Linked DNA regions of Homo sapiens: regions 1 and 2 are each reported to be linked to region 3. The links are microRNA targets in miRTarBase. Many come from high-throughput screens and were not tested one by one. Region 3 holds a microRNA gene; each other region holds the end of a gene's coding sequence.

The links. Region 3 holds the annotated microRNA hsa-miR-218-5p (UUGUGCUUGAUCUAACCAUGU, at 1,523-1,543, opposite strand). A microRNA usually pairs through its seed, bases 2 to 8, with sites in the 3' UTR of a target mRNA and lowers its output. Matches are read on the target gene's strand: a 7mer-m8 pairs with bases 2 to 8, a 7mer-A1 pairs with bases 2 to 7 and ends in A, and an 8mer does both.
Region 1: the mRNA of MFN2 is a reported target of hsa-miR-218-5p. The part of its 3' UTR that is shown has no 7-base or 8-base seed match.
Region 2: the mRNA of ZFAT is a reported target of hsa-miR-218-5p. The part of its 3' UTR that is shown has no 7-base or 8-base seed match.

What each region holds. Positions count from the first base shown.
Region 1 is chr1:12,011,215-12,014,464 of GRCh38, reverse strand. MFN2 (mitofusin 2) reads right to left here. Exons shown (of 19, transcript NM_014874.4): 19 at 957-2,969. The coding sequence ends at 2,900. Among named protein-coding and RNA genes, the nearest start is that of MIIP, 6.7 kb to the left of the region's middle.
Region 2 is chr8:134,475,746-134,478,995 of GRCh38, reverse strand. ZFAT (zinc finger and AT-hook domain containing) reads left to right here. Exons shown (of 16, transcript NM_020863.4): 16 at 275-1,208. The coding sequence ends at 514. Among named protein-coding and RNA genes, the nearest start is that of ZFAT, 240 kb to the left of the region's middle.
Region 3 is chr5:168,766,689-168,769,938 of GRCh38, forward strand. MIR218-2 (microRNA 218-2) reads right to left here and starts at 1,567; the gene lies at 1,458-1,567. All of the region lies in intron 14 of SLIT3 (slit guidance ligand 3), which reads right to left.

The DNA.
Region 1 (3,250 bases), not on the chromosome of region 3:
TTTGGCTGCTGCCTTGAAACAGCCACAAGATGGCGAGGATAGGCGGGGACAAGGCAGGAACAGGAACCTAGATCCGGGCTGATGGTTATGATGGAGGTGAGGAAACTGGGCAGGGTCAACAGACTTGGAAGACAGCAGGTGACAGATTTGGTGCAGCACGTGTGACCGTGGACTCGAGGGTGATGCCCCAAGTGTGTAGCCTGGGAATCTGGAAGGATGAGGTTGCTATCAGCTGAGCTGTGGCCTCTGTGGGCGAGCAGGGCGGACACTGGGCAGCACCAGAGCCAAGAGGACAGCTGTAGGGGCGGGGAAACTGACTGACTACCCCTGTATCTACTCCTGAGGACCCTTAAAAAAAAAAAGAAAAAAAAGCGGTGGCTCACACCTGTAATGCCAGCACTTTGGGAGACCGAGGCAGGTGGGTCACAAGGTCAGGAGTTTGAGACCAGTATGGCCAAGATGATGAAACCCTGTCTCTACTAAAATACCAAAATTAGCCAGGCCTGGTGGTCGGCGCCTGTAATCCCAGCTGCTTGGGAGGCTGAGGCAGAGAACTGCTTGAACCCGGGAGGCGGAGCTTGCAGCGAGCCGAGATCGTGCCACTGCACTCCAGCCTGGGCGACAGAGCGTGACTCCATCTCAAAAAAGAAAAAAAAAAAAAAGAATAGTGGCAACCAAATTCTCAGAAGGCAAAGCAGGATGGAACAGTGAGTCATTTACTTTTTAAGTGAAAAATGGTCTGGAGTTACAGAGAAATCTGTAAAGAAATCAGTCTCGATTTCCTGATCCTTAAAGATCAGTTAAACCATCTGTTCTTTTGAGAGTATCAAATTCCTTCCAAGAATAAGGAGCCAGATTATAGTGGGAACTTCCCCAAAGTTATGGTCACTTCAGAATACAGCTGGCCATGTCAAAGAGGAGTTTGTACAAGAACCCAAAAAGACAGATCTCACAAAGGATTTCCAACTAGGTTTTATTTTAGTTTCCAATATTATGAGCAATGATACAGGAGTAACTCAAGCAAATACATCACCTTAAATACATCAGAGAAAACTCACTGTGTCAGCACGTCTTGCGCTCCAGCAAATGAACATAAAAACAACAATGTCAGCAGCATTAAAGTGCTTTTGGCCATACTTCTTTCAGAAAGGGTCTCTCCCTCAGTGGTATAAATTTAATTTTACGTATTGAAGAAGCTCAAAATTTCATTCATTCCCCAGGGGCTACATTGAAAAAAAATTCATGTTTACGCTAAAGAATTTTTTTTTTTCAAAAAGAGCACAAAATCCATTGGAATTGTGTGACAGTGATTTTCCCTGACATGCTGTGAAGTGGCCCCTGTCCATTCAGGCCCGGCACACGCCGGGAACATCCACCCACAGCATGTCCACCTGGCAGAGTCCATCACTTCGCCCCACACAACAGGACAGACTGAGGGCTTTAAATACAAGCAGGTATGTGAACAGGACATCACCTGTGATGTGGCCACCAAACAGTGCACAGAGGCTACCAACTCATTTCCTCAAAGATGAGTGATGGCTGGGCTGCTGGGCCCCTGCCTTGTGGGCTGCTTTTTGGGAGAGGTGTTGCTTATTTCTAGGAAGCGATCCAACTTGTGCCACACAGGATTTGTCACCCAAACTGCTTTTCTCACACAGTCAACACCTTGGTGACAGGCATCTGCCCCCACTTCAACCAGTAACAATCCCAAAACTCAACATCAGCATAAAGACAAGGGGGTCAGTCGAAGGTTCTGGAGATCAGGGAGGGTGGAAAGATGGACACTGGGTTTTCCACATTGTCCCTTGGCCAACTGCAGTCACTGGCACAGGAAATTTAGTCCAGGGCACTTGGGACAAGGTTGGGGGTGGGGTGGAAACATGTCTCTTAAAGGGCACAACAGGGATGCAATCAAGCCTAGTGGGTGGGGGCTCTCAGACCCATGAGCCCCTCGCAGAACGAGGCCAAGTGGACGGCCCATTCTCCAGCTGTCCTGTGTGGGGCCCATGCACCTCAGCCAGCCACCAACGTCCCCACCTTCCACCATCCATCCTTCTACTACATCCTTCAACCACCTAGACCATGCCATCTTCCAAAACAGATCTACACAAAACAGGCCTGCACAAGTCCAGGACTGACACTAAAGCAAAGGACACAATAATGAGAAGAGAGGCAAGTCCCTCCTTGTCCCAGTGACTGCCACCTGCTCTGCCAGCTCCCCATACATCCAACAGCCCTCCCCTCTGAGCTACTCCCACTCCTCCAGCTGCCTCAGCAGCATCCTTTCTACCACCCCCAGCACAGGGCCCGCCTCAGCCTAAGCCCAGGGGTAACTGAGCCTCACCACCAAGACGTGTCTGAGGCTCTGCAAATGGGATGAAGCACTGAGCCAACAGGCGAGATGGACACACACAAGCCACAGTCCTTCTGGGACAGACTCTCTGGGAAGAAACTCCAATCGTCCCTTACACCTGCAGGTGTGCTGGGCTGCAAGGAGGGCAGGTGCGCACAGGCTGGAGGAAGGTGGGGGTGTCTGTGTGATACCCTCAAAGGCTTCCATGAGGCATTGTGCAATGCTGAGATCCTGAGGCCTTATCAAGCAATCAAATGAACCAGAGAAAGCTGGAAAAAGCCTCAACTTAACTCCTTGGTACCATGCTGTCCATAGCTGTCGCTGAAAGTGTCCTTTGGGGGTATGAGCCAGCTCTTCCAGCAACAGCAGGCAAAGGTGGGGGAAAATAAGTAGTGCTGGAGGGCTCAAAATGGTACGAGACTGGGTGCTTCATTCTCTTGGCAGTGGCCAGGGGGCAGGAGCCACACGTGCCCCTGGGGGAGCCCACATGGCACTTAGGGCTGGCAGCACCGCCCCTCTCCACGCAGACTCCGCCTCAGGTGCCCACTATCTGCTGGGCTGCAGGTACTGGTGTGTGAACATGTTGAGCTCACTGTCCAACCAACCGGCTTTATTCCTGCAAAGAAATGGTTCTTTTGTAACCATGATAGCTGATGATAGGCAGTATTAGGACTACCCGCCAGGCACCATCCTAAGGACGCTTGACACACACCCTTACATCATCCTCCAACAATCGTGTTTATCCCTGTCTCACAGATGGGGAAAAGGAGGCCCAGAGGGGTTAAATAACTTCCCAAGGCCACACGGCTAATAAGCCAGGGAGCTACAAGTTAGGCTTTTCTGATTCTCAAGCCCTGTGTTTCCTTCACCCAGGACCATGTGCAAGTCCCTGAGCTG
Region 2 (3,250 bases), not on the chromosome of region 3:
CATCAGAAACAACCTCGGACTCTGGGTTTGAACTTAGGTTCCACCATTTGCCACGGCTGGGGACCCTGACCACGTTGCCCTACATTGCTGAACCTCATTCTGTTCAGCTGTAAAATGGGCATGAGAGCAAGCACAGCCTGGTAGAGAGGATCCGTGGAGAATGGACGTGCTCCCGCAGCGCACTGGTGCCTCCTAAACTGTAGTTGTGACTTTGTTGTTACGCTGGACCGGGAAGTAGGCGCTGGGTGACCTTTCTCTTGCCCTCCTCCCGCAGGTCACCGAGGAGGAGCCCAGCTCCAACCACACGGTCATGATCCAGGAGACGGTCCAGCAAGCGTCCGTGGAGCTTGCCGAGCAGCACCACCTGGTGGTGTCCTCCGACGACGTGGAGGGCATTGAGACGGTGACTGTCTACACGCAGGGCGGGGAGGCCTCGGAGTTCATCGTCTACGTGCAGGAGGCCATGCAGCCTGTGGAGGAGCAGGCTGTGGAGCAGCCGGCCCAGGAACTCTAGAGGACATGTGGCATCGGATGGCCACAGGGCGGGGCTGCCAGGCTCTGCAGGCACCCAGGGTGGGGAGGCCACCCTTCCTGCCCTACCCGCAGAATGGTGCTCTCCTTTGCCCTCCCTGCCCAGCAGCCTGATAGGACTCTCCTAGTCCAACTTGGGGTGGGCAAGGCAGTCAGCATCACCAGCAATACCACAGGACCCTCACCCCAGCATAGACACACACCCCCTGACCCTTACCATCTGCTTCCTGAAAGACTTCAGTGTCAGCTCCCCTACACACACCCCACACCTTCACCCCTTGCTTCAAGATTCAAACAGAGACTCCCAGTCCCCCTCAGCATCTTCCCTGAATCACAGCCCCAGCTCCTTGACCCCCATCTAGGTGCCAAATGTTCATCTGCAACCGCTATGCAGTCTGGTGAGAGGGAGACAGCCATCACATAGAAAGTGACCGTACGGGTTTTTAATCACTGCTGGGTGGGGTGGGGGTAGGGGGATTGTCCTGGCTTTGTCGACAAAGTCCCACTTCCCCGAGTATTAAGGGCCCTTGGTATCAAGTGAGGTAAATTCACCCATCACAGGGTCTCGCCCTACCATCCTGGAATTATTTCACTTTTAAGATAAATGCACTATTTCACTGTTCGCCTCCCATTCTAAGGAGGTGAGGTGGTTGGAATAAAAACAGTTCCTGTCTGAATGCTTTGGTTCTTCAGGCGGGATGGCTTACATTTCCCCTTCCCAAGTTGAAATCTTGGATTTGGGGCCCACCCAGAAGGACCCCATCCAAACCCAGGCCCTTAAAATGCAGATGGTGCTCTTTCCTCTGCATTTAGGTTTGCTTTGGAAACCTTTTGACGTTAATGATCTCACCTTCCATTTCCTGGCACCCAGCATTTGATTTGCTGCCAGCCAAGAAGTGGCAGTGCCCTCTTGTCCACTGTGTATTTGGGAGGAACAATGCAATGACCATCAGAGGTGTCATAACACAGGACTATGTGACCAAGGTTTCTAGTCTGGGTGCTCAACATAGATGCCATATGTTTGGAACTCCTGCTCTGTGCACAGCATTGTGGGGGCATTGACTTGAGTCCTGATACACCCAGCCTGGCCCTGGGGTGTCTTGACATCTTCACATCTGACACCCTGAGGTCAAGGTTTGTTTCCTCCGAGAACCCTTTCTTGCAATGAAATCTGATGCAGGTTTAGAAGCAAATAAAAGAGTAGCCACCCTGTTGAAGAGGGCAGAGTTCACTTGGCCCTCCCTGTTACCAGCCCTCTCACCTCACCCCAGCAGGGCCTGAGGGCACCTCCTGGGAGAAGCTTAAAAGCTGCTTCTCTGATTCAAGTAGAAAAGTGACTCCTTGCCTTAAGCAAGGAAGAGGGAGAACACTGCTGACTTGGGATGAGTTAGGGAAAGCTTCACGGTGGAGGTGACCTGTGATAGGGCCTGGGAACCTAGATGGGCTTTGCACCTCCAGGGATTGGGGTGGGAGGGAGTGGGAAAGGAATTCCAAAGAAGAGTCACAGCGCCCCCTGGGGTGGGCAGTGTGGGAGATGGACTTGAGCCATGAGAATTTGTGTTTGGCTGGGAGCAACTCTAAAGGGAAGGGCAGAAAAATCAGCAGAAGCCAGATCCTAGAAGAGCAGGGATGTGAAATGATGGATGTGGATTTTACTCTGTAAGCTGTGGGGCAGGCAGTGGCATTTGATAGAGGAGGGGAAGGGTGAGGAGGTCAGGGTGGTTCTCCAGAATGAGACATCTTGCCCATGCATCGGTGTGGTCTGTGTTGAGATAGGTGAGTGCCCAGCTCACAGGCAGAGGACCTGGGCTCAAACCCTGCTCTGTCACTTATCCACGTGACCTTGCCATGCCACCAGACCTCTTAGCCTTAGTTTACCCATGTCTGAAATGGGTCCGAGGATAATCGCTGACTCCTGATGATTAAAAGGATTAAATGAGTGAAGCCCCTGAAGCTGTTAGCAGTGTCCTGGCCCACACTCTGGAAATATCACAGATTGCTTGTATTCCTGGCATGGGGGTCTTAAACATGAGTATCCCTCACACTCCTCCCTCAAGGGCATAAGGTAGTGGGGGGGGGAGGCCGTGAAGGTGGCCTGGGAGGACTCCTGGGGTGTGCTCTGTGCTCTGCGCAGCCTGAATGCGGAGCCTGCCCTGCCTGGACACACAGACCCTGTGTACTTCCCTTCCCTTCCTGTCCTCTTGGATTACGAGGAAATGCAGGAAGCTGAGGTGAAGCATTGCCTGTGGTCCTGGCTGACCAGGCCTGGTAGGTGTGTGGGTGGGGCAGGCAGGAGGCCTGGTTCTCCGTGGTTCTTTCCTGGGGAGCTGATGCTGGGCTCAGAGGGGAAGCTTTCAAAGCCAGTGGTCCGTTCATGTGACTGTGAGATGGAGCTTCTCACTGCTCCCGACCCCCTTGGCTGTTGTTTTCGGGTGCTTTTTGACTCCAGGTGTTTTTTGTGTCAGGCAAGGTAAAAGCTTGTGCTAAAAGGCTGAATTCTCTACCTCCCTGTTTTAGAATGTGTGTAAAGTACCTGCTGTGTGCCAGATACCATACGAGGCCCTTTCATGGGCATCTTCCTATTCAGACTTCCTGTCCACCTGTGTCTTCCTAAGACTGAAGACTGGCACTTCTATAGAGCTTACTCTATGTCGGGAGTATGGGTGTTCTCATCACAGCAACCCAGTGAGTTTGGTGCTCTTGTTAGAATTTTATTGAT
Region 3 (3,250 bases):
TGGTCCCTGCCATGTTAGGGGCAGTGCCGAGGGCCTCAGAATGCCCCTCTCTGTAAGGTGGGAAAGGGAACTTCTCCAGGCTCGAGGATTTGCTCTGTGTTAAATGGGATCTTTGTATGTCCATGCTGGAGAGGAACAGCCATTTGAATAATGCTTTCTCTCTTACTCAAGTTCTTTCTACTAACAGATGAAAGTCTGAAAGGGAGAGTTTAAGCAAATTTCAAGTCCCTATCAAATCACAGTTTTTAAATGTTCTAATTCAAGGCAATGGGGTTGTCCACAGCTGGGAAGGTGGGTATTACAGCAGTACAGTGCAGCCATTCTGGAATCAGATGACCCTGGGTAAGTTAGCTAACCTCTCTGAGCCTCAATATCCTCATCTGTAAAGTGGGACTTTAGATTTTGTGAACATTAAACAAGGTAATGATGTGAAAACAGTTCACTGCCTGGCCTATAGCAAGCACTCAATGTATGTTAAAAAACTACTAAGCAATGGTTGGGCTCCTGGTTCTGAGGGGTAACCTCAGATAGACGAGGTAATAAGAGTCACACCTCATGATGGGGGCCCAGGGCTCAGCTTCTAGTTCTGAGCTAGGCTAAAGTTCCCACCTTAGCTCTCTCTTGCAGAATAGGACAAAGACTCCAGGACAGGAATGAACAACACAGTCTTCTGGTTACACTGGGTCTAGGATTTATCAAGGAACAAGCAAAATAAGAGGTACCAAGATCCCTCTCTTTATTATCAGAGATAGCAGGTTTCCACGTCCACACACACTCCCCTCCCCTGAAACAGAATTAGCACCAGGTGAGGAGCCCAGCACCTCCACGTTAACTGTGCTTTGCAGGTCAAGGAAACAGACTGGACTTTAGGTTTCATGGGGTTCAGGGACTGTGTTTTCATAAAGTATGGGAATGAGGTTCAGAAGGAACCTTGGGTTAAACCCAAAGTCTCAGACTCACATGAGTTTCACCCATTCTCATGCTGACGTTCATTTCAAATAAAGTGAATACCAATAAAGGTGGTGGTGGGAGGGGTCGGGGGTCACAAGCAGTAGGAATTCCCCTTTGGGTTAGCTGCCACTTGGAAAAATGACCTTGGGTTGGGACTCTCCCATGAAACCATGGGGCGTATGCCTTGGGTATACTTGTTCCCTTCCAGTGGAAGAAGAGACACAGTAGTTTCTGAGCTTGAACCTAGTTATTACTCCTTGTCTGACATCCAGACTAGATTTGGGGGAGGGTGACTCCATTTTGGGAAAGAGATGTGGATACAGATCTCTTTCCCCAGGGTGCTTCTCCAGACCCATTTCCCTCTGTATCTGCATCCTTTGAGACTCCTACCCTCCTGCCTTTGGTGAGTTGAGACTGGGAGAGGTGGGTCTGGCAGGTGGTGGGCTGCGGTGCTCCAGAGCAGAGGAGAGGTGTCCAGCGGTGGTGGCGGCGGTGGCGGGCCATGCTGCAGGAGAGCACGGTGCTTTCCGCGGTGCTTGACAGAACCATGTTCCGTTTCCATCGTTCCACCACATGGTTAGATCAAGCACAAAGGAAAGCCCCGCAGCGACTGGTCAGAGTCAAGGTCAGGAAGCAGCGTCAGAGAGAGGACAGGAGCGCTCAGAGGAAGCAGCGTGGAGAAGCGGAAGCCGGAGCAGGCCCCCACTGAGCGTGATTAGTATCAGGAGTGGGGTTCCACTGGAACACTTCCGAAGATTGCAGCCCTGCTGCCCTTGTGCCCCACCCCAGGGAGACACAGTAGGAAGGGAGAAGAACGGGAGGGAAATCACTGGATGCCCATACTCGGGAGCTTCAGGACAGCATGGTTCCTTCCCAAGGAAAGAAAGAACACTCAGACATCTGTGATCCTATCACATGCCTGAATTGAGCCTCTAAACTCCATTCAGTCACACCAGTTGGTCTGACAAGACATTAAACTTAGAAAAGCATCTTCTGCATGCTTTGCAACATAGGCCCAATCCCCCCAACAGCTGAGTGGTTCCATCACAGTCATTCCTCTAGCCCCTTAAGTCAAGAGACAATCCACAGTTCCCAGTGGTCTAGCAAACCTTCAATGCTGTTCTTTAGGAAAAAGCCCCCTTTGACATTCCACAATTCAGGAGTCTCCTTTATATCCTTTGAGGTCAGCAGGAATGCTCTGGCTGATAGACACTCATCCCAGATCATTTGAGGTTTAATAGAGGAGCAGTGGGGTGTCAAAAGAAAATATATCTCTCTAGCCAGAGAGAAAGACAGGAAAACAAATGGGGCCGTAGGGTTTGGACTGAGGAACCTGCAATCATAGTTGTTGTTTGAGAACACTGACTTTCACAGAGATGGTGGCCAGTGCGCCTCCTGATGAAGGGCCTCTTTGAGACTAAGAGAAGGAAGGAAAGGGAAGCCAAGTGATGAGTCTGAGGGGAAGACACTGAATTCTGGGGTCCTTCTTGATTTCTTGTTCTCTTCCTTAGCTGGAAATTATGGGAGCGAACAGGATGAACCAATAACCACTGTCAGGATGCCAAAGGCCCAGGTGAGGGTACCCAGTTTTTATATTCCTCTCTGTGATAGATCAGGGTCAGTTTCCATGAACCTGCTGACTTGGGACTTCCTCCCACTTGGCATTAGGCTGGAGATGTGCATCTTGAAGAAACTGGAGCTAAGGCTAAGTGACTGAGACCCTCCCTGCCTGACCTCTGACATGAGAACCAGTATCAACATTCTTCCACTATGTGTTTTTGGGACTGGGCATATCCTCTAGATGGTCTCAGCATCTCAACGGTGCATAGGTTGTCTGCCATGTTGGACCAGTTAGGAAGAGCCAGCCCACAGCTCTGGGTCTGTCTGGCCTCTCCTCCTTCCTAAGGTCTCTCATCACACGCACTAGAGTCAGCCACTAGAATCTGGACTCCACTCTGCTTTGACACCTATGCAGGGCTCTGTGAACACTGTGGTTCTGGGACTTCAAATGTGAGTTTGATTAGGACCCTGGTACAAGAGCAGGGGAAATCCATCCTGTTCGTGCAAACCGCCACCCTCACCAAGCCTTAAAATCTAATTTTCTTTCTCTTTGGTTTCTTCCTACAAAAAGAAATGGAGGGATTTGTAGGTAAATTATCAAGAGTCTTCACAGTATGTCAGAAGTCCTGGGTTTCAGATCTTGCCCTAAAAATAATACTCAATACCTTAGATAAGATTTTTCTGCTGTGTGGACCTCAATTTATCCATCTCTAGAATAAACTGGATGACCTCTAAGGTT